2 separate regions of the Homo sapiens genome follow, and region 1 is linked to region 2. Evidence: fine-mapped expression QTL. A gene starts in region 2. The other region holds a variant in brackets. All regions are shown on one strand. Distances are from middle to middle. Region 1 holds the start of SLC22A15 (solute carrier family 22 member 15). Region 2 holds the start of LINC01649 (long intergenic non-protein coding RNA 1649).

What was found.
Region 1: its variant is fine-mapped to the expression of LINC01649 in prefrontal cortex (CommonMind, PIP 0.95).

What each region holds. Positions count from the first base shown.
Region 1 is chr1:115,968,402-115,983,678 of GRCh38, reverse strand. SLC22A15 (solute carrier family 22 member 15) reads right to left here and starts at 7,166. Exons shown (of 12, transcript NM_018420.3): 1 at 6,965-7,166. The coding sequence starts at 7,051. It overlaps LOC101928977 (a long non-coding RNA gene), which reads left to right and starts at 6,403. Exons shown (of 5, transcript NR_125970.1): 1 at 6,403-6,582. RefSeq lists silencers at 6,780-7,029, 7,090-7,319. The variant G/A (reference allele first, on the strand shown) is at 6,343.
Region 2 is chr1:115,912,842-115,928,118 of GRCh38, reverse strand. It overlaps LINC01649 (long intergenic non-protein coding RNA 1649), which reads right to left and starts at 8,743. Exons shown (of 3, transcript NR_125969.1): 1 at 8,560-8,743; 2 at 5,674-5,752; 3 at 2,211-3,343. It overlaps LOC101928977 (a long non-coding RNA gene), which reads left to right. Exons shown (of 5, transcript NR_125970.1): 3 at 3,109-3,306; 4 at 3,967-4,048; 5 at 5,507-5,546. It also overlaps the pseudogene LOC101928952.

The DNA of each region.
Region 1 (15,277 bases), 56 kb before region 2:
GGCAGGGAGAATGACACAGATTCCAGTCACTTCTGATGGGCTCCAGATCATATCTTCCCTTCTCGACTGCCTGTCCTGCAGACTTCAAGCTCCAACATCACACACGAAGACAACAGCCTTACAGGGCCTGCTGAACGAGCTCCCGCAACAGTATACAGTCAAATCTCCATAATGAATGATGCATCGATTATACATATATAATCTTACATAAACACACATACACACACATGTGCGCGTGCACACACACACACACATCTCCATCCTAGGGGTCCTGCTTCTCCAGTAGAACTATGACTGACACAACATTAAACAAATAAGGCAAAATATCTGCATTTATTAAATCTGGAAGCAAGTACATGTGCGTTTGTCATATTACTCTCTGTATTTTTCCATCAGAAATGTCTCATAATTTTAAAAGAAGTTTTAAAAGAAAATGAATAAATACAATAAAACAGAATAATATTAAGTTCCAACTAGATAATGTTTTCTACTGAAGCTCCTCTAATTCTTTCATGCTAGCTCATTCCCTTTGTTAAAACAGAAATATTTGGAAATGTTTTTAGAAGTGCTAACACCAAATGAGACTTTCTCCTTAGATAAACACAACTAAAGAAGGCTCCAGAAGGGCATAACTCTATCACTTATTAAGAGTTAATGCTATTTAATACAATTTCCATATATCTACCATGCAGGCTATTCTGCAGAGAATGCAGAAAGAGATAGGATTAGAAATAACTGATGGATTACATAGAATCAAAAACAAAAGTGAAAAGATATCCCTAGCAAGAGGGCAGAAACATGTCTTCCTCTTGGACATGTTCCCTAACAGAGAAGGTATTTAAGATAGGTGAGGATGAAAAAAACTTTTGAAGTAAAAGGAAACGATGTTTAGAAAATTTACACCAGCTAACCTCTATTTTATCCATGAAGTTGGGACAAAAAGCATCTAGGTAGAACTATATGAATGGAATCAGGAGAAGTCTGGGCTTGAGAAGACTGATAAACAATCAACTGGCAAGAAGTAAAGGTCAGAACAGAAGAAAGAACCAATACCATGGGCTGCGTGGGTTTGTGAACTTGAAAAAGAGGAAGCATAACATATGCAACACAAGAGAACTGAATAGCAAATTATACTATGGCCATATATTGAAATACCATGCTACAGCCACTAAAAAATATGTAGTTGTTCCTTTACATGCATAGCAACGCATTCACAACATTGCTGAGAGACAAAATGCAGTTATGATACACATTTCTGCAAAAAAGATGGATATACAATATTTATATAATAAAGAGTCTGGAAGGCTATACACCAAAATGTGAGCATGCTTTACTTTAGGGTGGTAGAATCACTAGTGATTTGTATTAATTTCTATATTTTCTCTTTTTTCTACAATCACCATATGCCATTTGTTGAGTACTATATGATGTCCCATGAAGGCAGATATCAATTTGCATGAGTGTTTGGTCAAAGAAGTCAGAGAGGAGAGTCCCGAGCTGTGTGCATCTTTGGATTTGAGAGTCTTTTTCTTCTAAGGCAACCTCTAATTGTGGTTATGAACCAAGCTGGTATTCTGAAACCTAGGGTCAACACTGCCCCAAGGCCAATTAATTGTTGGGCATTGGGAAACTCTGAGAAATCCTAAACTTGCAAAACAAATTAAACTTTCGTGATCCAGCCATTTCCAAGTGCACAGTAGAGACTGATGGGTCATTTGCCTAATAACAATTGCCTAATAATGCCATCTTGCAGCAGAGTAGCACAACATTCAAGCCTAGTGTTCTTTCTGCCATATTCACATTGCCTGTCCTCGTGACTTTAATGACTATTTTTGTGCTATCTTGGAAGATAATACCTTCACTGTCAAGGCACAAGTCAAACAGCCAGGGATGGCCTTGGAAGGCATTCGGCTGGGGGTTTGGGTGCTGCAGAGGTATCAGTCTAGTTGCTTTCCATGGAATGTCCTAATTCTTGAGACATCCAGGCTCAAAGGAGCTCCTTAACCCTTCTGGAGGCCTCCTGTATCTCTACAGCCTCCCTGGAGGAAAATCTGTCTAATAGATCAACAACTTTATCTGCTTTACACTAGGGGGCAGTGTCTGTCTATGGACAACAACAGTTTTCCTGAGGGTGTGGGGGCCAGTGTGGGTTTGGTTTCTTTGACCAAACCACTGTGTTTGTCTCTTTGCCCCACCCACCTAAACTGGTGAAAGGCAAAAGTTCCCAGATCACCATAAACCCTCAGGAGACCCAACCTCCAGGCCACTGTGTGAGGGCTAATTGAAATAAAATTTGACAGTAGGAGCTGCATAAAACTTGCTCAAACTGACAGAGAGCCCTGGTAAATGGCCACATGTTTTGGACTCATGAAAGGGTCTTAGTAAGACCATAGGTTCTCATCATGGCTGAAGCCTCAGTGATGGTGAGAACATCCTGGGGATGACAGTTAGTCTTTTATAACTGAACAAGAGCTTCACTAATGCTTATGGTGTGAACTTCATCACTTGCTTATGCCAGGGAGGTTAGAAGAACCAGCTATGATCTCAGCCATATCTCATCAGACCTAAGAATTTCCTGTGGAGGGACATGGTGCCACGTATAAGCAGATAGGGAAGGTAAGCTGTGATAGCATTCTACATGAAGTTTAACAAAACAGGCTGAATAAAACTCACTCTACCCCACCCTCCTGTGTTTAAAGGACCACAATTCACAGCCATAATTGATCAAAGGAATATTGATTTTTAAAAAAGAATGAACCATTATTCTCATACAGCAAACTATAGTATTCTCTCTTAGATATGCATATCTTCTTCCCTTTACCATCTTTTCACTTAAAAATATTTAATATGGAAAAGCAAAAAATAAGATTCATGAAACTACTATCACAATTAACAAATGATAACAGATGCAATCTCCTTTGTACCCTCCCCTAAGCCCACCCCTTCCCTTCCTTCCCAAGAGGCAACCAATCTCATGAATTGGGTGTGGATCTTTCTACTCCATGTTCTTATATTTCTATACTGTTTATATATATTTATGAAACAAATATAGCATTGGTTTGTGTGTTTTTAAAATTTGTATTAAGAATATGTGTCACATAGTATACACTGTTCTGCTTTTTTTTCACTTAACATTGTGTTTTAGAAATTCCTCCATATAGTCATATATAGATCTAGTTCATTTATTTCAGACGTTGTATTCTATTAAATTTATACCACATCTTATCCAGTCTTGTTTTGAAAGTCAGGTGGTTCTAACTTTTGTTATAATAGACAGTGTTGCAGTAAACATCTTACACATATCTCCCTATGCACGTGCTCAAGGGACAATGTGGGATGTGTACCTAGGAGTTCAATGCTAGGTTTTAATTCTACTAGATGGTGCCAAATTGTTCTCTAAATGGGGTATAGTTTCTATTTATCATTTCATCACACTTGTACTGTTAGATTGTTTAATGTTTGCTAATATAGCAAGTGTGAAATGGTATTTCATATCCATTTTAATATGCCTGTCCCAGATGACCACTGAAGTTAAAACATCTTTTCGTGTGTTGACTATTACAGTTTCCTCTTCTGCAATCATTCTACTTTCTAAAATGCTGAGAAAAGCTATTTATTGCATGGATAATATTAATGCACTGGTCATTCCAGGATCTAAAAAATAAGGTTATTAAGTATATATATATACTTAATATATATATAAAAATAATGCATTCCTGAACACCAGAATCTAAGATGAGATTCATAGCACAGCATCACAATTTTGCTGGTGAATGCTTGTTATAGATTACATGTTCCTGATAGTAAATGGGGGCTTTAAATTCTGTGCAAATTATAATATAATGTACGATTCATGATTTTGAGGAAAATGACAAAGCAGGAGCCTCTGGCTTAGAACAAAGAAGTAACGTCCATTTTCATTGCATGTCTAAAGGAATCAAGAAACAATGAATTGTATTCCAACCCTCCTCCTCCAGAGAGCCTAGACAACAAGCAAACACATACACAAACACAAAATAGTGACGATGGCAGCAACTCGGAATCACCATCAGAAGAGAAACAGTAATATGCTAAATAGAATTATTCCTATTTAAATATCGCAGATAGCTCTGATCCTAGGGAGAGCAAGTACATTTTGATGGTAAGAATGTTTCTAACTGTAAAGCTTATTGTTTATTCATAAGTCAACCATTTTTACATAGGCAATCTTTTTCCCTTCACTTTTTGTTTATGTACATTAATACCACATATCACCATTTTCAGGGCATTTGCATCTTACGCTGAGGAAAAATCTGCAAAATCTGCATCTGTTCTTTAGTTATCTCAAAGTTGAATGCTATTGAGATTCCAAAAATTGTGTTTGCAAGGAGTATGAGGGCAAGTCTCCTAGCCAAAGGAAACTGGATAGTGAAGTAACTTTTGATGATCTACATGATGGTACCAATAATTCAAGAAAACAGTTAACCAAAAACCCTTTAGAATTGGCTTTGCTATGTGGTTTTGTCCTCTTAGTTTGAACATAGATGTGTTTGGGGTAAAGGGAAAATCATTTTTAAAAATAATAATAATGGTCCCAGAAGAAGGAAAATGTTAAAAGGCCTGTAAAATTTCCACCTCTGTCCTTCTGGTTTTGTGCCTCTCAGCTGGGGTTAATCATTATCAAATCGCAGATGGGGAGAAGGCTCCCACTGAAGCAGAGGCTCCCTCTCTCTGGCCTTGTTGCTGTGTTGTTGGTCTGCCCCTTCCTTGGGCAATGGTACGAAAACTCCTTTGATTTTAAAAGCAGAAAAACCCCCTTTCATTTAAGGCAACTGTGTAAAAAGGGCTTCTTACTCTGCTGGGGGAAGCAAAACCTCATCCCCAAGAATGATGAAATCACCTGTGATACAACTGAGCAATGGGACTCCACAGTACTCCCACTCCACAGACCAGCTGCCGTAATACAAAACATCTCCAACAACAGACTTGGTAGAGAGGTCTTTGGGGATATCCACTCTCATACCCAGGGTAGCTCTGGGTGGCTCTACAACCCCCTGGATCATGTATCTCAATGGGGTAACTGAGTCCTTAAAAACACGTAGCATGTGAAGGATTCACTTTTGCCTAGGCTGGCATCTCCTCCACTGGTATAAGCACAGCTACAGGGCATCTTCCCACCCACATCTATAAGATAAACAATCAGTCACTCATCCCCAACACTCTAAGACCTGGTCCTTGTACCGCAAATACTGACCATAAATCATCCAAGGTTTAGTGAACGGTCATAGGCATGGGCTTGGAACTTTTTGATAGCAAACTCTAACTAACTGGGTCAACCATAAATAAAAGTAAGTTAGAGAAACTTAACAGGTCCTAAACCGAGAACACTGGCCTTTTTAGAACCTCACTCTACTGAAGACAAACTTACTCCAAGTTAGTGGATACTTGGCTAGGCAAATAAGAAAATGATAACAGGAAGTGAAGGGTAGGGATAGAGGGATGGGGAGCTGGGATTGTTCAAGAAAGGATGTATGTTCCTGGAATTCATGGCTGGAACAGAAAAAAAGGGTTTTCTCAAAGAAACTGTTATAAATAAAGATCAGGCATCATGGTTGCAATTCTTCTTTCTCGGTATTAAATACTCTTATCATTTAGCTTGAACGTTTTTTCTCCCTGGGGAAAGCTTGTTTAAAGCTAAAACAACGAGCTTAAAAGAACTTCAGAATACCACATATTCGTGAGCTGAGAACTGTTCGGCTAGAAAAAGAACTGACTCCATCATTTGAACCGTTTCTGGCTGATGATGAAATCAACTGAACTTCCAAACATTTTAATCAATAAGTCAACCCCTACCTTCCCCCATCTTCCTGTTGAGCCACTGTCTTATGCAAGCTTTAAGCAACTTGTGGACTGGTGGCTATATCCATGACCACTCTGTACTTCCTGCAGAATAACTATCATCACATGCTAACTAAATTACTTAACTGTCTGCCTGCCCCACCCGCAGCCACTGGAATGCAAGCTCCTGAGGGCAGTCAATGATTTGTCCACCATGGCATCCCTATGTTCAGCACATCCTAGCCCGTATTAAACCTGATGACTGAAGGAAAGAGTAAAATGGCTGGCTCACAGCAAATACTAAGAAAGGATTTGTGAATGAAATGCCTCTGGCATATTGAGAGAAGCGACTAATGTCAAATGAGCCATTTAAGTTGGTGAAGGACTAATCCTTGCCTGGCGCAGTTAATCTGTAGTGACCTTTCGCATATGGAATCGATATTTTGAGGCTGGGGTGTACAAGTAGGTTCTGAGAATTCTTTATAATGAAGAAGTGATTCCATTTGATAACCACACATGGTAGAT[G/A]GCACTATTCGGCTCACGGGAGTCTCAGCCCAAGGCTGGCGCAGGGCCGAATGAGCCAGCAGAACTTAAACCAGAGGGAAATAAATCCTATGCTTTGAAAGCCCCTAGAAGAGTAAGCCCCCTCAAGCCCAGGAAAAGAGGCAGAGGACACCCGGCGCAGAGGGAGGCGATCCTAGACACAACCTTTTGTCTGCAGATTATCAAGACTGTGTCCTAGATTCCAAGGTGACAGTGCCACAGGTAGGGTAACAATTCCCTTCATATTTGCAGCGTGTTATAGGCAACAGCGTAGGGCAGGTAACACAATTTTGCATCCCTCCTTAACCAGCATAGCGGCTGAGAAACCTCCCCCAACACGCTCCTTCCACCACTCAAGGTGGCGGGGTGGAGGGCCCAGCAGAACCCAAGAGGCTCTGAGGCCGGCCGGCGACCTTGACGCTGCCGGCCGGGCCCAGGCCACCGCGCGGCGCCTCGCCCCTGCCCCACCCCGACGCTCGCCACACCTCGGTGTTTGCAGAGCCTCGGCCTCGGCCCCGGCCCCGGCGGTCTGGGAGCGGACGCCTAGCCCTGCGCCGGGCGGCCCTGAAGAGGGAAATGCGGCTGCGGGGCCGCGGGGACTTACCTGCAGCAGCACGGCCAGCAGGAAGCACAAGTACATCTGGTAGATGCCCATCTCCCCCACCGCCTGGAACGCCTCCTCCACCTCCATGGCGGGCCGCGCGCAGGAACCCCGCCACCCCACCGCCCTCTCAGGCGCTGCCCTCCCGCCCAGCGCGGCAACCCCTGGGCGCCCGGCACCGGCTTGGACCCGCCGGGGCGGGGATGGAAGCGCTGGCGGCGGGGCCGGGGCGGGCCGGGCCGGGGCGGGGCGCCTGCGCGGGCGGCGGGGCTGTCAGGCTCGAGAGGTGGACGCCGGGCGGGGAGCGGGGAGCGCAGCCGGGCTACGCGGGGCGAGGGGCGAGGAGGGCGTTCGAGATCCGGGGCTGGATGCCCTGGACCCGGGCCTCTGGACTTCCTGTTTAAAAAAAAAATGGTGTTTTGGTGTACGTTTTGTTTTGAGAGGGACCGCTGTCTGCGCCTTAAAGTGAGGAAAGAGGAAGTGGGCCGGGCTGAGGGCCTGAGAAGAAACATCGGGACCGCGTCCGCGTGTGACCCAGGGCTCTGCCTACAGGGGACCCGCAGCTGGCGGGCGGCCTGGCGGCTCTCAGCAATGCCTGTCGTTTTGCCCAAACCAGTTTAATGCGGGGGCTTGGGGAGCCCTAGAGCCTTCAGAGAAAAGTGCTGTCTGTGCAGCATTTCTTTCCAGTCCTATTCTGTGCTAGCCATGGGTTAAGTACACTGGTAGGCAAGCAAATTCTTGTAAAACCGTCGGATACATTTGCTTATAGAAGTATGCACGAGGTACAAAGGAAGTGCAAAAGACGAAGGGGCAGGATGTGATGGCTGCCAAGGTATTTAAAGGATAAACGGCAGTTTGTCAGGTGGAAATTAAAAAAAAAAAGCGTGGCAGGGCCAAGGGACGCTGGACACCTGCGTTAGTCCCCTCATGCCTCCACCTCCTAACCTCATTTGCCTTTTTGTTTATTATGTGTTGTCTTTTTAACAGCTGCATAGTATTCCATTGTCTAGACCATGACTTCTAGTTTAACATTGAATAGAAATGGCGACCAGCTAGTGTCCTTGACCTGCCAGTATCCTTCTTATGCTTCCAAAATTTTCCGTTAATTGTGATGTCTGTTGCAGCGTATTGGTAGCTAGGCTTTACTGGTCAGCTGCTTTCTTTTTTTAGCAATTAAATGAATGCTCACTGTAATTGAATTTATCAGTGGGTTGGAAACTGTAAACTCTATAAACTCTTAAGATTTTTTTCTCTCTCTTACTTAAGGAAACGTTTTCTGTATAAGTACTATTAATAGTTTAAAAAGTTTCCTTCTTTGGCTGTTTCCTACGAATCCTCATTATTAATAAATGCTGAAGTTTAATAAGTGCTTTTTGCATTTATTGACATGATCCTATTGTTTTTCTTCTTGAATCTGATAATCGGGTACATTATGGTAATAGTTTTTTTGATATTGAACTTTACTGGAATAAATCCTATTAATACTTGCTCACGATATTGCTATTTATTGCCAAATTTAATTTGCTAGTGTTTTGTCTAGGGACTTTACATCTGTGACTAGCGAACTAGGCCTATAATTTTCTTTTCTTCCTGATGCTTATGTCTAGATTTGGCAGTAAGATTTTATAGTGCTTTCATAACATGAGTGTGAGTGTTTGGTAAAACTCTCCTGCAACCATCTAGACTTAGCTTGTTTTGCAGGGGGAGCCTCTTTATTACAGATTTATAGATAATGGGTAAAGATAAATAGGTGTGTATAACTAGATATATTCGTATGTCTTTGCATTTCTTCTTGAACCACTTTTTTTCTAGAAATGTTTCTATTTTATCTAGTTTAGAAATTGTTTTTGGAATAAACTAGTTCATATTGTTTTCTTGGGATTTTTAAAAATAAGGGTCTAACTGTTTATGTCCCATTTTTCATTCTGAATAGTGTTCATCTTTATTGTTCCAATCTTATCAGTCTTGCCAGAGGTTTGTCTACTTTATTATTTTTTAAAAAGTTTTGTGAATTTTTTTATTTCATTGATTATATGAATTCTTTCCTTTTTTTTTTTTTACTTTTGTTACTTTGTAATTCTTTTACTAGCCACATGACTTGAAGTTTAGCTTCTTTGCTTTTAATATTTCTTTTTGAAGAATAATTATGTGTGGCTGGGCTCAGTGGCTCACGCCTGTAATCCCAGCACTTTGGGAGGCCAAAGCTGGTGGATCACCTGAGGTTAGGAGTTCAAGTCCAGCCTGGCAAACATGGTGAAACTCCGTCTCTACTAAAAATACAAAAATTAGCCGGACGTGGTGGCACAGGCCTATAGTCCCAGCTACTCAGGAGGCTGAGGCAGGAGAATCACTTGAACCTGGGAGAAGGAGGTTGCAGTGAGCTGAGATTGTGCCATTACACTCCAACCTGGGCAACAGAGCAAGACTCTGTCTCAGAAATAAATAAATAAATAAAATAATTATATTTAAGGTTGTACTTACCTTTCTATAGGACTTTGCTCCATCCGACAAGTTTTGTCATGTGGTACTTTTGTTGTCTTTACTTTTAAATATTTCATGACATTGTCATTTCTTCTTTAACCAATGAGCTATTTTTAGTGCATTTTTTGTTTCCAATTAAAGGTTGCTATTTTTTTTACCATCTTTTTAGTGTTGTTTATAATTTATATGCTTTGTAGACAGAGATTATATTAAATCTTGGAAATTGTTTTAATTTTTTGTGACCTAATATGTGATTTTTCTCTTTTTATTCTTTTTTTTTTTTTTTTGACAGTATCTTTCTCTGTCACCCAGGCTGCAGTGCAGTGGCTTGATCACATCTCACTGCAGCCTTAATCTCCCCAGCTCAGGTGATCCTTCCACCTCAGCCTCCCAGGTAGGTAGAACTATAGGCAGACACCACCATGGCTCATTTTTATTTTTTGTAGAAATGGGGTTTTGCCATGTTGCACAAGTTGATCTCAAACTCCTGACCTCAAGTGATCCACCCGCCTCAGCCTCTCAGAGTGCTGGGATTACAGGTGTAAGTCACCATGCCCAGCCCGTAGCCTTTTTTTTTTTTCAATGTTCCACGTGTATTGAAATAACATATATTCTCCACTTGTTGTGTGCAAGATTCTCTAACTATTAATCAAACTTGTTGATCTAATTTTATTTAAGTAGTCTATATTATTACTTAATTTTTCTGTGCTGAATGTATCAGTTTTTAATATATCAAAATTTTCCAAAATTAATATCATTTTTGAGTTTATCAAGTTCTCTTTTTGTCTCTGTGTGCTCATAAAGGTACTAGTTGAATCTTTTTTATCGTGATGAAATAGCTCTTTTTAGTGCTTTTGGTCTTTTTTACTTTGTCTCATATCAATATTGTTGCATCACCTTTTCTGTTGTTTGTATTTTCCTTGTAATCTTTTTATTCTTATATAGTCTTTTTATGTTCATCCTGTAAGTTTCTTTCTGCTTAAGGCATATGTCTTAGTCTATTTTGGCTCCTATAACAAAATACCTTAGACTGGGTAATTCATAAACAACAGAAATTTATTGCTCACAGTTCTGGAGGCTGGGCAGTCTAAAATCAAGGCACCGGTAGATTTGGTGTCTGATGAAGGACTGCTTTCTGCTTCAAAGATGTCACCTTCTTGTCGCATCTTTACAGTAGGAGGACAAGAGAGCTCTCCAGAGTCTTTTATGGGAGCATTAATCCCATTCATGAGGATGGAGCCCTCATGATTTAATCACTTCTCAAGGGCCCTACTTTTTAATACTATCACATTTGGTATTAGGTTCCAACACTAATTTAGGGGGACACTGCTGTCATTTGAATGTTTCCCCTCCAAAATTCAGATGTTCTCAATGCAAGAGTATTGGGAGGTGTGCAGTGACCCTAGCCAGTGAGAAGTGAAGTGGGGACTGCTGCTAGCAAAGCAACCAGACAGGGTTTCCCTGTTGGGTTTTAGACTTACTTAGGACCTGTTACCCCTTTCTTCTTTCCTATTTCTCCCTTTTGGAATAGCAGTGTCTATCCTATGCCTGTACACTATTGTTTTGATAGCACATAACTTGTTTGATTTCACAAGTTTACAGCTGGGGAGGAATTTGCCTCAGGATGAACCATGCATTGGTTCCCATATCTCTGGACTTTAGACTTTATAAAGTTGATGCTGGAATGAGCTAAGATTTTAGGGGCTATTGACATGAAATAAATGTATTTTTGTGTGAGAAGGACATGAATTTGGGTGAGGGGGCAGGGGCAGAATGCTATGGTTTGAATATGTTTCCCTCCAGAATTCAGACATTTCCAATGCAACAGTATTGGGAAGTGTGGCCTTTGGGAAGTAAATTACTCATGAGGGTTCTGCCCTCATAAATGGGATTAGGTGCCCTTATAAAATGGCATGACAAGGGAATTTGTCCCGTTTGCCCTTCCACCTTCTGCCATGTGAGGATATAATGTTCCTCCTCTTTGGACAGTGCAGCCCTCACCAGACAACAAACCTGCTAGCACCTTAATCTTAGGCTTCCCAGCCTCTAGAACTGTAATAAACAAATTTATTTTCTTTATAAATGACCAAGTCAGTGATATTCGGTCAGAGTAGCACAGATAGACTAAGACAGACACTAACATTCAGACCATAGCAGCATGTTTATGAAAGGAGGACTTCTTTTTTCCATCCAGGTTGATAGTGTCTATCTTTTATTTATTTTATTTATTTATTTTTATTTTATTTATTTATTTATTTAATTTATTTATTTATTTATTTATTTATTTATTTATTTTTTGAGACCGAGTCTCACTCTGTCACCAGGCTGGAGTGCAGTGGCACGATCTCGGCTTACTGCAACCTCCAACTCCCTGGTTCAAGTGATTCTCCTGCCTCAGCCTCCTGAGTAGCTGGAATTACTGGCACACGCCACCACGCTCAGCTAACGTTTGTATTTTTAATAGAGACGGGGTTTCACCATGTTGGCCAGGATGGTCTCAATCTCCTGACCTCATGATCCACCTGCCTTGGCCTCCCAAAGTGCTAGGATTAGAGGCGTGAGCCACCACGCCCGGCCATCTTTGTCTTGTAATAGATGAGTTAAATCCGTTTGTATTTATTGGGAGCGGTATATCAGAAATTATTTCTACCAACTTATTTTGTTTTCTGTTTATCATCTTCTTTTTCCTTTATGGCCAACTGTTAGATTGTTAAAGCTATTTTTATACCGCCTTTCTCTCTTTTGCTTTTTTGAAGAGCTACAGATTATTATTATTTTGATAGCTATTCCTACATTTTTAACATCCACAGAACTATGCACTTTTCCACAGTGTTTATATTATATAAGATATATATCTCCTTTTCAAAGTGGATAAAAACGTACACAAGATCCCAAGGGTACTGTATCTGAGAAAACTTAGAAGGACCTAAAGATGTTGTGTTCTGGAAAACTTTGTTAGTTGACCCAAGAAGAGACGATCATGATGCCAAAAACACTGATGTAGAAGATTCATGTGAAGTTTTACTTTCATTGTTAAGCAAAATTATCCTAAACTTGGAAATAATAAGACAGCAAGAAGAGGTGGGTGTGGTTTTTTGTTTGTTTGTTTGTTTGTTTTCTTGAGATGGAGTCTCGGTCTGTCACCCAGGCTGGAGTGCAGTGGTGCCATCTTGGCTCACTGCAACCTCCGCCTCCCAGGTTCAAGCGATTCTCATGCCTCAACCTCCCAAGTAGCTGGGATTACAGGCACATGCCACCATGCCTGGCTAATTTTTTATTTTTAGTAGAGACCATGTTGACCAGGCTGGTCTCAAACTCCTGACCTCAGGTGATGCGCCTGCCTCGGCCTCCCAAAGTGCTGGGATTACAGGCGTGAGCCACTGTGCCCAGCCGTGGGTGTGTTTTTTAATGCAGTAATGGAGCATTGTTTAACAGATCTGCCCCCAGGATTATTTAATGCTGTAGGAGAATGCTCCTGCATTTGACTTTACTATTTACTCTATTAATAAGAGCTCAGGCACTGTGCAGTGAGTTGTCAACTTACAGATTTTTTTAGTATGTGGTAGAGATGTAAGTGATTATCTTCAGTTAGAAGGATAATCTATGATTTCATTACCCTGTGGGACATTAACGGGTTTTGTATCTAATCTAACAATCCTGTTCTAGCATTCTTTTTTGTGTGTAAATAATAATTTCTTCAAATGCTCTTAGAACCAGTTTATCATCCTGCTGGTTCCCTCATCAATTATTGAAGGCAATAAAAGCTTTGACATAGATTAATTCTATATTGGTAAGAGAGTCATGTTTTTAACTTTTGAGGATTTTTCTTTGACATCATGATGCATTTGAGTGAAAAAATATATAAATTAATATTTTATATGACATACAATTAACAAATTAAGTGTTAATTAGATATTAGATTAGTTCGTCTTACTCCCTAAAAATATATGTTTTTAAGTGGGTCAAAAACTCTTCTACATATTCAGTGTTTATTTACCTTGTATTGGGATCTATATGCCAGAAGTAATTGATGATTGTGAGAACAGAAAATGCAATCTGAAATGACGTCTGATGAATTGACAGAGACCAGGAAGGGGCTGGAACTTTTTCCTACAGGTGATGGGAACCACTGAAGTGTTTTAAGTCGGAGTGATGTGAGTTTTAAAAGATGATTTGGCAGCAGCGGAAAATGCATATAACACCAGTTAGACATTATTGTAATGGCCCAAACAGGACCCAATGAGGGCTTAAAACAGAACAATGATAACAGGAATGGAAAAATGAAGTCAAATTTAAGGTAAAAATCAGCAAAATTGACATTTTGCAGGTGCAAAAAAGGGAGAAATCATGAACAACTCCCATGTTTAGTCATTGTAGCCAGACTTGGGGAGTGGAGGTGCTATTAACTGAGACAGGGAACACAGAAGTTGAATTAGGTTTGTGGTGGCAGGTTGAGGAGCCTACAACAAGAACGGTGGGGCTGACAGGCATTGCTCCTTTAAATGGTCATTGCCCCTTTAAGATTCTGCCCTTCCCCCTTAACCCACCCAGGCCCCTGCTGGATTTCCTTGCCCTAATTTACAGTCAGCACCAAAGCTTCTGAGCATGCGCTCAAGGAAGAGCTGGACTAATTAAAGCTCTCCTGAGGTTCAAGGTATTGCATCTGTGGCTCTTAGCAAAGAGTTCCATTTTTGAGAGCATATTTTCTCCAGCTTACCATTTTTTCTCATTTTTCTTTTTAAATCTTTTTCCTCCATAACTTTATATTATCTGTATCTTTTTAATCACTGAAGAATAATTAACATCTAGGTTTTTTCTTTTAATAATAAAAAATTAAAATAATGTTTTCAATACAGCGTCTATCAAAGATACTGTTTGATCCATGAAAGAAAAAAAAATTATTTGGTCAGTTACATAAATCTTGGGAGCAAATATAATCAATCATGATCATGTTCCTTTTTTTTAATTACAAAACCTGTGCACCTTACTACTGTGTCGTGTCTTTTGTTTCATTGGTAATTTGGCGTCCCAGATGGCTACTGAAATTTGGTGTGTAAGATAATAGACTTTCTGGATGTCACATATTGTTAGAAATCCTTGGAAATCAGTGTTCTATCCCAGCCTAAATGCACTGCCTTTTAAAGAAAAATCTGAAGAACATTTCTCCCTCTTCATAAGCCTTCATTCATGCTGAGATAACACTTTATAGTTAGAATGTCACAGCACCATACCTTAATAAAGATATCTAAAGTACATATACCTCTGTCAACATTAAGTTGATATAAACATAGCAAATATGACGGGAAGAAACAAATAACAAGGGAGTCAGGAGATTTTGTGGGTAGATGCCTGGGAAGAAGGAGCAAAAGACAAAGGGAAGAGAAGTAAAAAGAAAATGGAGTTAGCAGTGAGGTGGACATCATCTGGTCTTCCAAACCAACAACGGTCATTCAAAAAGATTGTTAAGTGGGTGAAAAACATATTTAAAAAGATCTACATTTAATATGGAGAAATTGGCCATTTCCATGTCTCAAACCTTAGCAATAAAACAAAAGAGTATAAATAGAGTTAGGTGTAAAATTCAGGAAGTTAAGGTAGAGAGATATGAAATATGAGGAAAACTAACCGTTAATTATATTTGAATTTAGATAGTAGAGTGTATTGCTTGCTAAGAGTCCAATTTTACATGTTGTCCAAGAGGCACTAAGCTTAGATAATAGTGCATTCATTTAATTCAACAGGTTCATTCCTGAGTGCTCATATTTAATGAAAATGTCAGTGATGTTACTGTTTTTGTTGCTGTTGCTGATGCTATTTCTTACATGGAAGAGTTAT
Region 2 (15,277 bases):
CAGGGCCAGTCCACACTCAGAGGGAAGTCTGCAGACCATCCTTCCTTGATGCCCAAGCCCCAGCAGGATGGCGCTCCAAGTCACTGTCACTAAACTGTATATGGTGTTTTACAAACAACTATATGATTGGATATAGAATGTATTTCTGTGGTATGTGTGAATTCCAGTTGTTTGCTCTAGAACAGCACTGTTCAATAGAACATTTTGCAGTGACAAAAATATTCTATAAATCTCCATGGTCCAATACAATAGCCGCTAACCACATGGCTATTAAGGATTTAAAATCTGGAACTGGATTTTTAATTTTATTTAATTTTGATTACATAATTTTAATTTAAATAGCCACATATGTCTAGGAGCTTACCATAATGGACAGTGCAGCCCTAGAAAATAACTTCATCCATTTTGATTTTATAAGTGGAAATGGAATATAACCACCCTATGATAATGACACAATTCTGACTTAGGCGCATGAACTAATTCTCTTAATTTTTACATAAATATAATGAATGAAATTTCAACACTTCTGCTATTGATGAAAAAGTAAGGCTTTAACCTTAATTGTCTAGATTGAATATATAACTGGCCAACTGCTCACTTTGATTTTTTTTCCGTTTATTATACATCTTGCATCCCACACCTAGCCATAGATAGGTAAGATTAAATTAGTTGAAGGCCGGGCGCGGTGGCTCAAGCCTGTAATCCCAGCACTTTGGGAGGCCGAGGCAGGCGGATCACTAGGTCAGGAGATCGAGACCATCCTGGCTAACACAATGAAACCCCGTTTCTACTAAAAATACAAAAAAATTAGCCGGGCATGGTGGCAGGTGCCTGTAGTCCCAGCTACTCAGGAGGCTGAGGCAGGAGAATGGTGTGAACCCAGGAGGCGGAGCTTGCAGTGAGCCGAGATCATGCCACTGCACTCCAGCCTGGCCAACAGGGCAAGACTCCATCTCAAAAAAAAAAAAAAAAAAAAAGATTAAATTAGTCTTCCATCTTAAGAGCACATAATAGGACCTTCTAATTAGGACACAAAATTATAAAAACATAAATAAAGTAAATGCAAATAATATGAATAAACTCTCTAGGTAATTCAAAATGCTGTTTGAATCAGACTTCTGAACAACTTGGTGGCATGGCTACACTGGAGCTAAATTTGCTATTATTTGAAAATTCTGAAATCAAGTACTCTAAATGATGTGTTCTAATAAGAAATAATCACCTCTTAAGAGTATGGTAACATGTGTGATACTAAGCACAAGTAATACAAAACAGCATATAACCTGAATTTTATGTATAGTTCACGTCTGGGAGGAAATGTTCCCAATGTTTGCACCAGAATTAGAAGCAACCAGAGACTCAATTGGTCTGATTCTTATAACTATGCGGGAGCTTTTCTGAGATGCTGAATGTGCACTTCTGAACCCCCTTCCACTCACCGATCTGTGTTGATCAGCCCAGATACATACAACTAACTAGAATTTCGTCACTTTTAAACCCGCACCATTGAGTTGATGCCACATCCATGAATATGATTGATTTAGACAAGACTGAAAAACATAGCGTTTTAGATAACCGGGGGTTCAGCCAAATTCTAAGGAGAGGCTTGAGAGCACCTGCTCCTCTAGTGGCATTAATATGGCTCCTGGAGGCTGGGCATGGTGGCTCACGCCTGTAATCCTAGCACTTTGGGAGGCCAAGGTGGGCAGATCGTGAGGTCAAGAGATCAAGACTATCCTGGCCAACATGGTGAAACCCCATCTCTACTAAAAATACAAAAATTAGCTGGGCATAGTGGCATGTGCCTGTAGTCCCAGCTACTCGGGAGGCTGAGGCAGGAGAATCGCTTGAACCTGGGAGGCAGAGGTTGCAGTGGGCCGAGATTGCACCAGTGCACTCCAGCCTGGGCGACAGAGCGAGACTCCATCTCAAAAAAAAAAAAAAAAAAAATGATTCCCGGAAAAATCAACCCACTTGTTTATACAGCCTGTCTTACTTCATAGGATTCTTGTGAAAATTAAATGAGATCCTGGGAGGGTTAGATGACTACAGCAGAAAGAGCAGTCAGATGATTAAAAAAATCTGAATTTTAATCCTGAGACTTTACTTAATGTCTTTGAGTTTTAGCTTTCTTACCTGCAGAATGAAGGTAGGAATGTCGGCTCCATATATCTCACAGAGTTTCTGCAAGGATCACGAAACACTCACTCTGCATGCTTTTTTTTTTTAATTCTGAGTTTGTTATAGGCACAGAGATTTCTGAATTTCTGGTCACTGTTTTTTAGATTCATTTACTTTTATCTAGTCCCTTAGTCACCAGTTGCACATATCTACAAAATGATTGGCTGGGATTAGTGGCGTGGTCTATGAAGGTGAAATTGAGTGAAACAAGAAGAACCATAAAAGGCCCCAAATCCGTGGCCTTGACTTCATTAAGCAAGCGCAATATTCATCTGTGCGATCCATCTTCAGTGAAATGCAGCCTCCTGACCTTTTGCCAGCTTAGCCCCGCTGTCAGCAGCTGGGGGGCCCTGCCACAGGGCTGGGGAGGGAGCCCCGGGTTGCCCACATTGCAGATCATCTCAGGAATATTCAAGAGGGACTGTAAAATAAACCCCCAGTCTTGTAATTTTATTTCAAAAAGCAAAAATTCTCCCAGATAATGAGCATTTTGCTCTAATAAGAACTGTAGGATTGATTAGGTTCAAACTGTTAACAGACATCCTTATGGTTAATGAAGCAGCACTGAAAATGCCTCTGGATTTTTTTGAAACTTAAATCATACAAAAGCAAGCAAAGAACTGGAGGTAGGGTGGAATAAACTGTCTGTTAGTTAATATACTCAAAATAATGGACCCAAAATGTTCTTTGAAAAGTTAATATGTATCAAGAGTTATTTCCCCAATGGGCAAGCAATAAACTTTGATGATTATTGTTGAAACATTCTTTGGATAACATATTTTTCTGTGAATCTTGAGTGGGGGACTGAAGCTTCTGCCATTTTAATTCCTTTGTTAATGTCTTTATGAATGCAATTAACACTTCATTCACGCTTCTTTGTTTCTGGATCCCATTAGGATGTGGTTTATGCCAGTTTCTCTCTCCCAGGAGACAGCCCGCATCACACAACATTTCACTCAGCTGTGTCGCTGAGCACTGACAAACTCAATTTACGAAAGGCAAGAGTGAGTTGACACCATGCTGTGGCAGTTGTCCTGATGGGAGGAAACGACTCATTTCCTTCCAAGGTAGAATCCACCTTCTCTGAGAAGCATGCTTGTGCACAAGAGTACTGAAGACAAGGAGGTAAGGAAAGCCTCTTGGCTGACACAAAGTAAAATCCCTGCAGTTGAAGAAATGCTAAAAATCAAATTTGGTTCCTGGTCTTTAAAGAAAAAACAGCTATCGCTTGCCCTGTAGGCACAACAGGCTGCTATTATCTTTATCAAACATTTAGTAAGAGCTAACTAGGTACAAAGTAAGGGAGAAGCCCAGAAGCAGAGGAAATGGTCTCTCTTTTCTGGAGCTTACAATGTAAATAAGAGGCAACAGATAAACATGACAAATACATAAGCCGGGGTGAAAGGCAACACAGCTAAGTCCTGAATGAGAAGCACAGACCAAAAGAACACTAGGAGTTCAGAAGTCTGTGATGGGGAATTTGGGGAAAGCTTTTCTGGGGAGGTGAGAATTAAATAAAAGCAGTTCCCCCAGCCATTCAATGATTGAACTCACCAGTAAAGAGGGAGAGAATAGGAGGAATTGCAGAGAGGGAAAGAGAGGCAAGCATTAGCTAAGATGCAAAGGTCCAAAATGAATAAGAAGGTTTTTGTTCATGATACATTATTTTCCCTTTATATTAAAGTCTCTCCTCCAATTGATGGCATCATTTCTATTTCAAATATCACTGTGCTATTTGCTTAACAGCCAAAGGCACTGCAAATGAATATATCTGAATCTTACTAGGAACTGTACAGAAGAAGATGCAGGAGGTCTGAAGGGAAGTCAGAGACAAAAGAAGGAAGGAAGCAAGCAAGCACTGCTCATGGTTTGGCATTATATTTTTTCTTTAAATGAAAAAAAAATCACCTATAGATAGGCCTTGTACCTGTGCTATAATTTTAAGTTCGGTTTTCTCTGACAAACACAAAAAAAGGGGAGAATTTCTAGTAAGTGTTATGAAGCATAACATATTACCAGAAAAGGAAGTAAAGCAGCTTATAGCCCAAGTCATCTGTGCCTAATATTAAAGGCGTTTTAATATGCCAAGGATGGTATTCCTTATGTAATTTTAACATTATTTAATGGTATGATAATTGGTTGTTTTCTTATTTCTGAGTTACTCCAGAAATCTAGCCCTTTTCCCATTAGCTATATATCCTTATTACCAAGATCTTCCTCACGTCTCTTTCCACCAGATCTGGGCTGTCAACGCCATCATATTCTATTAGAGTAAGGCCTGGATGTATTTCTGCCAGACTGGCCAGCCCCTAGGCATTAAAGCATTACAGACCACAGTCATGCCTAAGCACTTTTTGCATTAAGAATAAGGGTCATTTTGTTTACATTTTATCATATGAAGCTGCTCTTTGTGGGAAAAATGGCTTCCTATATTACAAATGCTTGGCCAAAGAACAACTAACATTAACATTAACACTGATTCTAATCAAAAGTGAAAGTGTTGGTAATTTTATGAAGGTTATTTCTTTCCCTAAAGCAAATAGCTGTCAATTGTCACTTTTAGAACTACCATGATTTATTGGAAGAATAACAACTCAGTAGAATTACTGAATTAATTCCCAAACATTTAAAGGGAAAAGAAAAAAAAATGATAAAAGGGATGGTCTGTATGGAGCAGGGAGGGGAAGGGATGGTTCTGAGGCTAAAAAACAAAAAAACAAAAAACCCTTTACTTCTGTCCTTGTGCATTTTTTTAAATAGAAAAAAGCCACTCTGCATTCCCTGGCCTCAAGCCACTAGGTCACTATGTAAAACATAAACAGGGTCTGTGTTTTGCTGCATTTGAGAAAGATGTAAAGGTGTAAATATGATGGAAGGGGTTTTATTTCCTTTCCCCTCTCAGGAATGGTCTGACAGCCCCAGGCTCGAGAATGTGTCTCTCCCAAGTACTCTGTCACCCTGGTAACCATGGAGACCATGACGATCGATTAGATGCCATCTGATCTCAACCTTATAAAAAAAAAGGCAGCAGATGGCAACCAGGCCACTAGACCTGTCTCAAGAGAGACGAAGAGGAAGAGCGAGAAAGAAAAGGAAGGAGGGAGAAAGGGGAGGAGGTGGGGGTGGGTTGGCGCAGGGAGAAGAGAGCCCAGAAGCAGCTCTGGAAATGAAAATTTTAGAAAAGAATGAAAATAGAAAACAAGGAAAGCAATGGAAAAAAAGAAACTAAAACCCATTGTGTGATAGACCTCTACAGTGAGTTGTGGGAAGATAATTCTACAGAGAAAGCGAATCAGCTGTCTCCTAACTTTCCACTTTTATACAGAATGGTGTGGAACCCGGGCCCCAAGGCTTCTCTGAGGGATACGCACCAAGTTGGCTCTCAGAATCGGTTGGACTTTGATGCATCCAAAAGAGAATTCTGAGACCTGGTTCTCAGAATAAATGTCCCTAATCAGATGAGACCTTTCAGGGGACTGTATGCATCAATACCTGGTATGTTTGTCAGCCCATCCCCAGCAGTGTTCTAATACTCCTTAAAGGAAGAAGCGATAACCAGGTCAGTAGATACCTAAGGTGAAAAGAAGACAAGAGCAGTTAAGTCAATTCTGGTAACCTAGGGGTCTTAGCCAGTGTCCCAGAGTAATGTAATGGCTAATATTGATGAAGTGTTTATGATATGTCAGACACTGCTAAGCACTACATACAGAATATTTAATTTAATCCAGATAACAATACCATAAGTTAGGTGCAATAATTATTCCCATTTTACAGAGAGGACCTGAGGCTTAGAGAGGTTAACTACCTTCATCAAGGGCATACCTAGAATGCAATATGTAAATGTTCAGAACAGCTTACTTATATAGAGAGTTGATTTGCTCACTCTTGTTCTTTCTTTTTCAATCCCCTCCCCTACCTTTTTTTTTGAGATGGACTTTCACTCTGTCACCCAGCCTGGAGTGCAGTAGTGCAAACTCAGCTTACTGCAACCTTCGCCTCCTGGGTTCAGGTGATTCTTCTGCCTCAGCCTCTGGAGTAGTTGAGATTACAGGTGTGCACCACCACATCTGGCTAATTTTTGTATTTTTAGTAGAGACAGGGTTTCACCATGTTGCCCAGGCTGGTCTCGAACTCCCAACCTCAGATGATCCACCCACCTTGGCCTCCCAAAGTGCTGAGATTACAGGCATGAGCCACCGCGCCTGGCCTTCTCCTCCTTTTTATTTATTTATTTTCATTTTTTATTTTTTGAGATGGTGTCTTGCTGCATCAGTCAGGCTGGTCTCAAACTCCTGGGCTCAAGTGAGCCTCTGCCTCAGCCTCCCTAGTAGCTGGGACTATAGGCATGCACTACCACACCTAGCATTTTTCCCTTTTACATTTTATTTCAGATTTTTGCAGATTACAAAACAGGACATGTCCAATATAGAAAACTGCTTAAAACAAGAGAAAGAAAGGGAAAATTATCTACAATCCCATTAGTCAGAGATACGTGTGATAAGCATGTGGATTATGTAATATACATATATATATATAGAGAGAGAGAGAGGGAGACAGACATGTATATTTTAAGCAAATATAGTATTAAATCTTAAATACTGTTTGGTTAACCTACTTTTTTTTGGAACATTATATTATGAAAAACTTTCCATATTTTTGACTCTTCTATTTTATCTGATTTAATGATTATAGCATTCTACTATCTGATGTATCATAATTTTATTTAACTACTTCCTTATTATTGGATTGTATTTCCAGATTTTTGCTACTATAAATAATGCTATGGTGATCATTCTTGTATGTAAACCTTTTTTGTACTCCTCTGACTTTTTTCTTTAGAATGAAAACATACTTGCTAAGTCAAAGTGTATGTTTTCTCAAAACTTCTAAATTGAGGTATAGCATATATACAACAAAGTGAATAAATCTCAAGTGTACTGCGATTTGAATTCTACAAGTGTATAGACAATGGGTACAACCACCACCCAGATCAATGGATTAAACATTTTCCAGAATGCTTTTCATGCCTCTTCCCAGTCAATAGCTATCCCCTGTTCTTGAACTTCATATAAATGGAATCATAGAGTGTGTATTCTTTGGTTTCTGGCTTCCTTCACTCAACATAATGTCTGTGAGATTCATCCATGCTGTGGAGTATAGCAGTAATTCATTCTTTTTATTGCTTCATAGTATCCTTTAAAAAAAAAACTACAATTTATTGATTTATTTTTTTCTGATAGACATTTAGGCTATTCTGAATAAAGCTGTTATGTATATTCTTATACATGTCTTTTGGATGACATATTTATACTTCAAAAAATATAAACTAGGAGAGGCATAACTAAATCATAGAGTAAGGCATACTTTCAGCTTTAAATGCAGAGTAAACATTTTTAAAGTTTTATTTTGCTTTTGGAGAGGGGGCCTACTTTTAAATTGATCTCCAAAACAGCTGTACCAATTTGAACTCCAACTATCCAATGTCATGAGTGTACCCTTCCCCTTCCCGCCTTACCACCAGCTAGTGGGCATTTTCATTCTTCTTAATCTTTGCCAGTGTGAGAAACAAAATGGTATCTCATTGTTTATATTGTGTTTGATGACCAAGAAAATGTTAAAAAATTCTTGCTATGTTACCAGATATTCTTGTTTCTTCTTTTGTAAATTGCCCATATACATCATTGCCCTATTTGCTATTAGCTTTAAGATAAGGCAAAAAGCTTAAATATAATCCATATAGTATGTATAGATCCATTGGCATTGTAAGAAAAATTCATTGGTATTTATAACCAAAAAATATTTACATTCTTTCCATAAGTTGACATCCTGCTCTATATATTTCAGAACGAAGTTAACATTTACAGAACACCAATTACTGAGCACATTTACTCTTTAAAACAGCCCTATTTATTTCATTCTTACAATTTCATTTAACTTCAGAGGTAGCATTTAGTTTTCATGAAAAACTCTAAAGGTATTTAATATTCTGCCTATTTTTACAAGTGCAGAAATCAAAGCTCACGGGGCTCAGGGTCACAAATGATTAAGTGGTGGGACTGGGATTTAAACCCAAGACACCTCAAGTCAAAAGTAAATTATTTTTCTCTTTTCTGTAGATGCCATTGCCTAGGTCAGTGCTCTGGCCTATCATCTGAATGTTTGTATCCTCCTAAAATGTATATGTTGAAATCCTCACCGCCATAGGTGATGCTGTTAGGAACTGGGGGCCCTTGGGAGGTGACTGAGTCTCGTGAAGGCAGGCCATCATGAATGATCAGTGTCCTTATGAGAGCTGCCCCCCAAATTTCCCTCACCTCTTCCACTATGTGAGGACACAGCAAGAAGGCACCATTTTTGAACAAGGAAGTTAGCCCTTACCAGACACCAAATCTGCTAGCACCTTGATCTTGGGCTTCCCAGACTCCAGAAATGTGAGAAATAACATTTCTATTACTTGTAAGTCACTCAGGTATGGTATTTTGTTACAGCTACCCGAACAGACTAAGATAAGCAGTGATTCTCTTTTTTTTTCCCCCACATTTCAAACCCTAAGAGGGCATCTGAATTCTAGAACCCCATCCTTAACTCCCTTCCATTCTCAACACACATCTACCATTCCACTACCAAAGTCCAAAGAGTATCAGGATCTCTGGGCTATCAAGAAGATGGAGAATATGAAAAAAATCCATGTTAGCTCATTTATTTTAGAAACTTTTCTTTGTGTGTGGTGTGTTTTAAAATCTGAGTAATGGTTTAATAAATCCAGAAGTAGAATAAGTAGAAGCAGAAGTGAATCTAGGATCTTTTCCTCTTGATAAGTTACTCCTTTTGGGGTCTGAAGCTTACATAATTTTAGAGGCTTTTTAAAAGAAAAAGATGACAAGAATATTTATACAAAATTAGGTTTGAGTGTTGATTTAAAGTGAGAAAAGAAATTGCTATCAATTACACATTTTAAAAATATTTAACTGCCACAAGAATCACAAAATTAAAAATATATATATATACATGGTACTTAATTGCCCTGACACCCCTATATAATTATGCCTTCATTTTTTGGCTCTATATATTCTTGGGTCACGACTTCATATAACAAAGATTTTTGTAGTATTTTCTATCAAGAGGGTACATATAAAGATAGATTAGTCTTTCCAGTAGCATGGTTGATCAAATTTGTTTTTCATTAAGAATTTGGAAAAGTTTCTGTGAGCTTCATAACTCATTATTTGTACTATCACATAAATGCTTGGGATCACAGTTTTAGGAAATTTCCATCAAATTTTTGTCATATGTGAACTCTAAGATTTCAGAGTATCTCTAATTTGTTTTCGTTGTTGTTACTGTTCAATGACTAATCTTTTTTTCTCTTTGAATTTAATGAATTTACATAAAAAAATTAGGTAGTCATTTTGCATTTAAGGAATAAAAATCTTTAAAAAAATACAAAGAATGGAAGGATTTTAGCCAAGTTTACACTTCTTTTTGCTATAATTTGTAACAATTCAGCTCATCATAACTTAATGCAATGTGCAAATGCAGCACGTATTACGATCACTTAACTAAATTTAAGGAAGTACATTGTTAATAGTGGCCCTCAGAGGAAATAGATTTATCTTCTTGTAAAAACTCCATGGTATATAAACATTACATAATAATGCTACTTAACCACCTCTTGTCTCAAGAATCATTACCCGGCGAGGTGCGGTGGCTCATGCCTGTAATCCCAGCACTTTGGGAGGCTGAGGCGGGCAGATCACGAGGTCAGGAGTTCGAGACCAGCCTGACCAACATGGTGAAACCCCGTCTCTACTAAAAATACAAAAATTAGCCAAGTGTGGTTGCGGGTGCCTGTAATCCCAGCTACTTGGGAGGTTGAGGCAGGAGAATCACTTGAACCCGGGAGGTGGAGGTTGCAGCCGAGATCCAGCCTGGGCAACAGAGCAAGACTCTGGTCTCAAAAAAGAAAAAAACAAAAACAAAACAAAAAAACCACAAATGCTTTAATAGTTTTAAAGCAAAAGCTGTTAGAGTCTAGATAGCTAAAACTATACTTGTGAGTTCAAGCTTACAGATAAGTAGCTCTTAATAAAATATATTTTGATATATGTAGTTCTTTTTTTTTTTTTTTTTTTTTTTTTGAGACAGTCTCGCCCTGTCACCCAGGCTGGAGTGCAGTGACATGATCTCGGCTCACTGCAAGCTCCGCCTCCTGGGTTCACACCCATTCTCCCGCCTCAGCCTCCCAAGTAGCTGGGACTACGGGCGCCCGCCACCACACCCAGTTAATTTTTTTGTATTTTTAGGAGAGACAGGGTTTCACTGTGTTAGCCAGGATGGCCTCGATCTCCTAACCTTGTGATCCGCCTGCCTCAGCCTTCCAAAGTGCTGGGATTACAGGTGTGAGCCACCGTGCCCAGCAAGTAGTTCTTTTAAGTAGTTCTTAATAAAATATCCTTCCTCCCCATGCCCCTACCCTAAATCTTATATTGTTCTTATAAAACTTTGGTCAAGAGTAAAAATATATCCAGGCAGATGTATATGTCATACAATAGCAAGAACAGTAAAGCCCAACTAATGACTTTAAAATATAAGACAATTATAATGTACTCAAAGGTACATAAAAAAAAGCTTTCATGGGGGTAATATTGAAACAGTCACAAAGGTTAAGAAAATAGTGATGTCACCTGGGCACCGTGGCTCACGCCTGTAATCCCAGCACTTCGGGAGGCTGAGGCCGGCAGATCACCTGAGTTCGGGAGTTTGATACCAGCCTGACCAACATGGAGAAACCCCATCTTTACTAAAAATACAAAATTAGTTGGGCGTGGTGGCACATGCCTGTAATCCCAGCTACTAGGGAGGCTGAGGCAGGAGAATTGCTTGAACCTGGGAGGCAGAGGTTGCAGTGAGCCGAGATTGCACCATTGCACTCCAGCCTGCGTAACAAGAGTGAAACTCCATCTCAAAAAAAAAAAAAAAAAAAAAAAAAAAAAAAAGAAAAGAAAATAGTGATATCAAAGTACAAATGGCTGCAATGTTAAAATAGACAAAAGCTACTATGCAAGAGCTTCTTTTAAAATGAAAAATATAGAACACAACACATGAGTCGGTGATTTTCCTGTTCTACTCATGAATTTTAGGTTGGTTAGGTTGACATTTAGAAGAGTTTCTTATCACATCTGATGGTGTCATTCCAACTTCGTAGGGTGGGTCTTCCCCAAGGAACCTCTAATCTTGGTTATTGTACAATTTCAAAGTAGTGCAATATCGCCATGATGTGCTGGGTCATGAAGATGTATCCTGCGTATCAATGGAAACCAGCGTGGAATTGAGCACCTTCCGCTCCTCGGGCTCCAGCATGTAGAGCATTGTGACCAGCAGGTGTTGGTAGTAGAACCAGGACATCTACTTCCAGGCCCGCACCAGCTCCATCCCTGCCAGGCGCCTCCTGCGATGAGGTGGCATTTCAGTCTCTCAATGACTAATCTTAAATATGCTATGAATTGATGGCATTCACTATTAACTAATTTGTGATCTATGTCCTCCTTCTAATGGTGTATTATGGTTTATATTATCTTTGTCAATATAAACATTCCTGTCTAATTATAAATTTAAATATTTTACAAATATATTCGTATAACTCATTCTTTTTTATTGATTAGATCATTAAATAATATAAAAGCCTATTTATTATTTCTATTGGCAATTTATCTCTTCCTCTTAATGATTTACTAATTTTGAATTTTTTTTTTTGAGACGGAGTCTCACTCTGTCGCCCAGGCTGGAGTGCAATGGCGCAATCTCGGCTCACTGCAACCTCTGCCTCCCAAGTTCAAGCGATCCTCCTGAGTAGCTGGAATTACAGGCACGGCACCACGCTCAGCTAACTTTTGTATTTTTAGTAGAGATGAGGTTTCACCATGTTGGTCAGGCTGGTCTCAAACTCCTGGCCTCGTGATCCATCCCCCTCAGCCTCCCAAAGTGCTGGGATTAGAGGCGTGAACCACTGTGCCCGGCTGGAAATGATACTTTTTTAAAAAAATATTTTTTAGAGACAGGGTCTCATTCTGTTGCCCAGGCTGGAGAGCAGTGGCAAAATCATAGCTCACTCCATCTTCAAATTCACAGGTTCAAGTGATCCTCCTGTCTCAGCCTCCTGAGTAGCTGAGACTACAGGCACACACCACCGTGCCAGGCTAATTTTGAAATTTTTGGTAGAGATAGGGTCTCACTATGTTGTGCAGGCTGGTCTCAAACTCCTGGCCTCGGCCTCCCAAAGTGTAAGAATTACAGGCATGAGCCACCACACCCAACTGTTTTTTGTTACAGTTTACTGCTAGATATCAGAATTATTTCTATTGACTTTATATGTAAATCTATGAAAAATAGTTTTATTGTATAGTACAAAAACACAATCATGTACACTGCATCTGCATGTGCATTCCCAATAGGAGAGAACTTCCTTTCAATTAGGTGTCAATAGAAACTAAATCCTCTGCTACAATTGATTGGAAAGAATTTTCCACAGACCAGCTTCTGGTTCCAATCCATTTCAAACCTTGCATTTCCTCTACTAGGGTCTCGGATGTATTCATATTGTGATTTAACCTTTAGATATGCCCCTTTATGTTATGACACCAGGTGAGTTTCCACAGTGGGCTGTTGGTATCTTCCTGAAAGCCATTCCTGTAACAGCATTCAGCCCAAAAGAACGTATCTCCAATTCTACTTGCCTTAGCTGCCCCCCCTCCCCAGAATGTCTGCAGCCCCTTGGATGCCACCTGATATAAGGAGAAGTTGGAGTACAAAGAGACAACAGTCTCACCTATTGTGACTACAAAATCCCACTTGTACAAGTTTTGCCAAAACATATGGCAAGTAAATACACTGCTAGGGTTCCTCCTATCAATTTGAGGTGCAGTGAAGCTTGAGCTTTATGATAAATTCACCTCTGGAGTTTGGGGAGGGAATTACTATTTGGAGAACAAGAGACAGGTGGGCCAATGGAGAGTGAAGATGCAATCTGGTTCTGCTGCATGGCTCAAATACTGTGATTCTCTATCCTTAGAATGTCAGAGTCTTCCAACTCCTTGACACGGGATCTAGTGTGGGAACTCAATCAGGGCCTGTCTTAGACTAAATGAAGTAAGAAAAAATATAATCTTTCCCATCTTTTGTTCATTTTCTTGCCCCTTTCACTTCTTTAGGGTTCACTTTTCCTTTTATCTCTTTCAGTCATATAGTGCTCTGTGGAGATTTTCCTTCCTTCCTATAAAAGTTTGCTCTTGGTAAAGGCTCAGATATTTGCCATTCATTCATTCACAAATGTTTATTTTGCATATACAAAAGACTAGGCACCATTTTAGGCACTTAGTCCTTTACTAGGGATAAAGCAGTGAAAAGGACAAAAATATCTCTGCCTCACAAAGGTTATAGTCTGGAGATATTGAGACAGAAAGTAAACAAACGTTCACATTAGCATGGCCAAGTTTTTAGTACCATATTAGTGCTCCTGTGGAAATTTGCATTTGAGGTCATTTACCTCTTGTTAAAGGAGTGTCTTTATTCCAGAGTTAACATAATTTCAGTCAGCAGGCATTTGGGGAAGTATTTCAGATGGGGAAAGGACATTTTCCCAATTCCTTGGAGCTTTCCATTTTTATTTATGTACAAAACTGGTCTTGGTGTACACAAATTAGGCTGACCATCCTCCAGCCCATGCCGCTCCATTTGAAACTGTATTCTTATTGTTAGAACCTCTAGAACAGTCTCTGGTCTCTTGACCAGGGCATCTTGAGGACTGTTTTAAACTGTACCCCATGTCGTATCTACTTATTCTCTTCAAAAGGTCACATGCTAAGTTTAAGTATGACCATGGTAGATCTCTGTTTCTAATAATTTAGATCATTTTTCTTGGTCTTATTCAAACTACCCCATATGATGACAGTCTCTTAGGCTTAGTGCTCAACAGTTTCATAATATAGTCACTCACACTTTAGAGGAAGTCCTCTTACTTCTATTACAATACAGTTGATCATCTTTTCACCCATTTGTCAATATTACATTCTTTTTTTATAAAGGCAGTGTTTAAAATTTTCATTATTAGCACTATGTAGAAGTTCTTCGTTGTTGACAACTTGTATGAGTTACGATTTCTTTATGTGTATGCAACAGAAAATTCAAACTGGCTTCTAAAATAAGATAATAGATGGCTCACAAAGCTGAAGTCCAGAGGTATTTCAGGCTTTCAGGTTGATGGAGTCACGTACTGCGGCCCCATTTCCCGGTAGTTCTCTTAGCTCATCCATTTCCCAACTCACAGCTTCATCCTCAGCCAGGCAGCTGTAGTAGATGGCCTCACATCTGTGGATAGCAATGTTCAGAGACTGTTCCCATGGCTGTCCCTGATGAACAAGGAAATTTTCCCCAGAGGCTCCTAGAATACCTTTCCTTTTGCCTCATTGGCCCAAAGTATCACATATCACATGATCATTTCTGTTCTTTTTTTTTTTTATTCACATGATCATTTCTCAACCAACCACTGACAAAGCACTGAGATGACCAAATCAGGCCTCCCCTGGAATACAGTCTAGGTGGGAAGAAGGGCTCGGGACAGATTCTCCTGAGGCACATGGGCTTCCTGGGGGAGGAAAATGACAGACATAATCAGACTCCTCATAAGAAGGAGTAATGGAAACAGATCCTATGTATCCTTTTACTTCAGTAGTCATGTCATTCTAGTTGCCTCAGTGATATTTTGTTAGTTTCTGAACTTATTTCTCCAGCCTGCAGGTAATAAGACAAGTCTCATGCCAATCAATAACCATAAAAAAGAAGTTAAAATTATGTTCAGTATCTTCTGCCTAAGAAAATGAGCCTGAATGTAGTATGTAGGTGACTAAATAAATAATTTGTTTAAGCTAAGGGAGTTAAATTTTAGTTACTGAAAACATTCCACAGGACTTAGCTGCCAAACTTCCCACTGAAAGGCCTGAGTGATTTTACTGAGTATACTTTCCATACAGAAGGAGCCTTTGCCAATCCCGTCCCATGATAGGATCACCGTTATTGGGTTTAACCTGCACCTTGAGGTGTT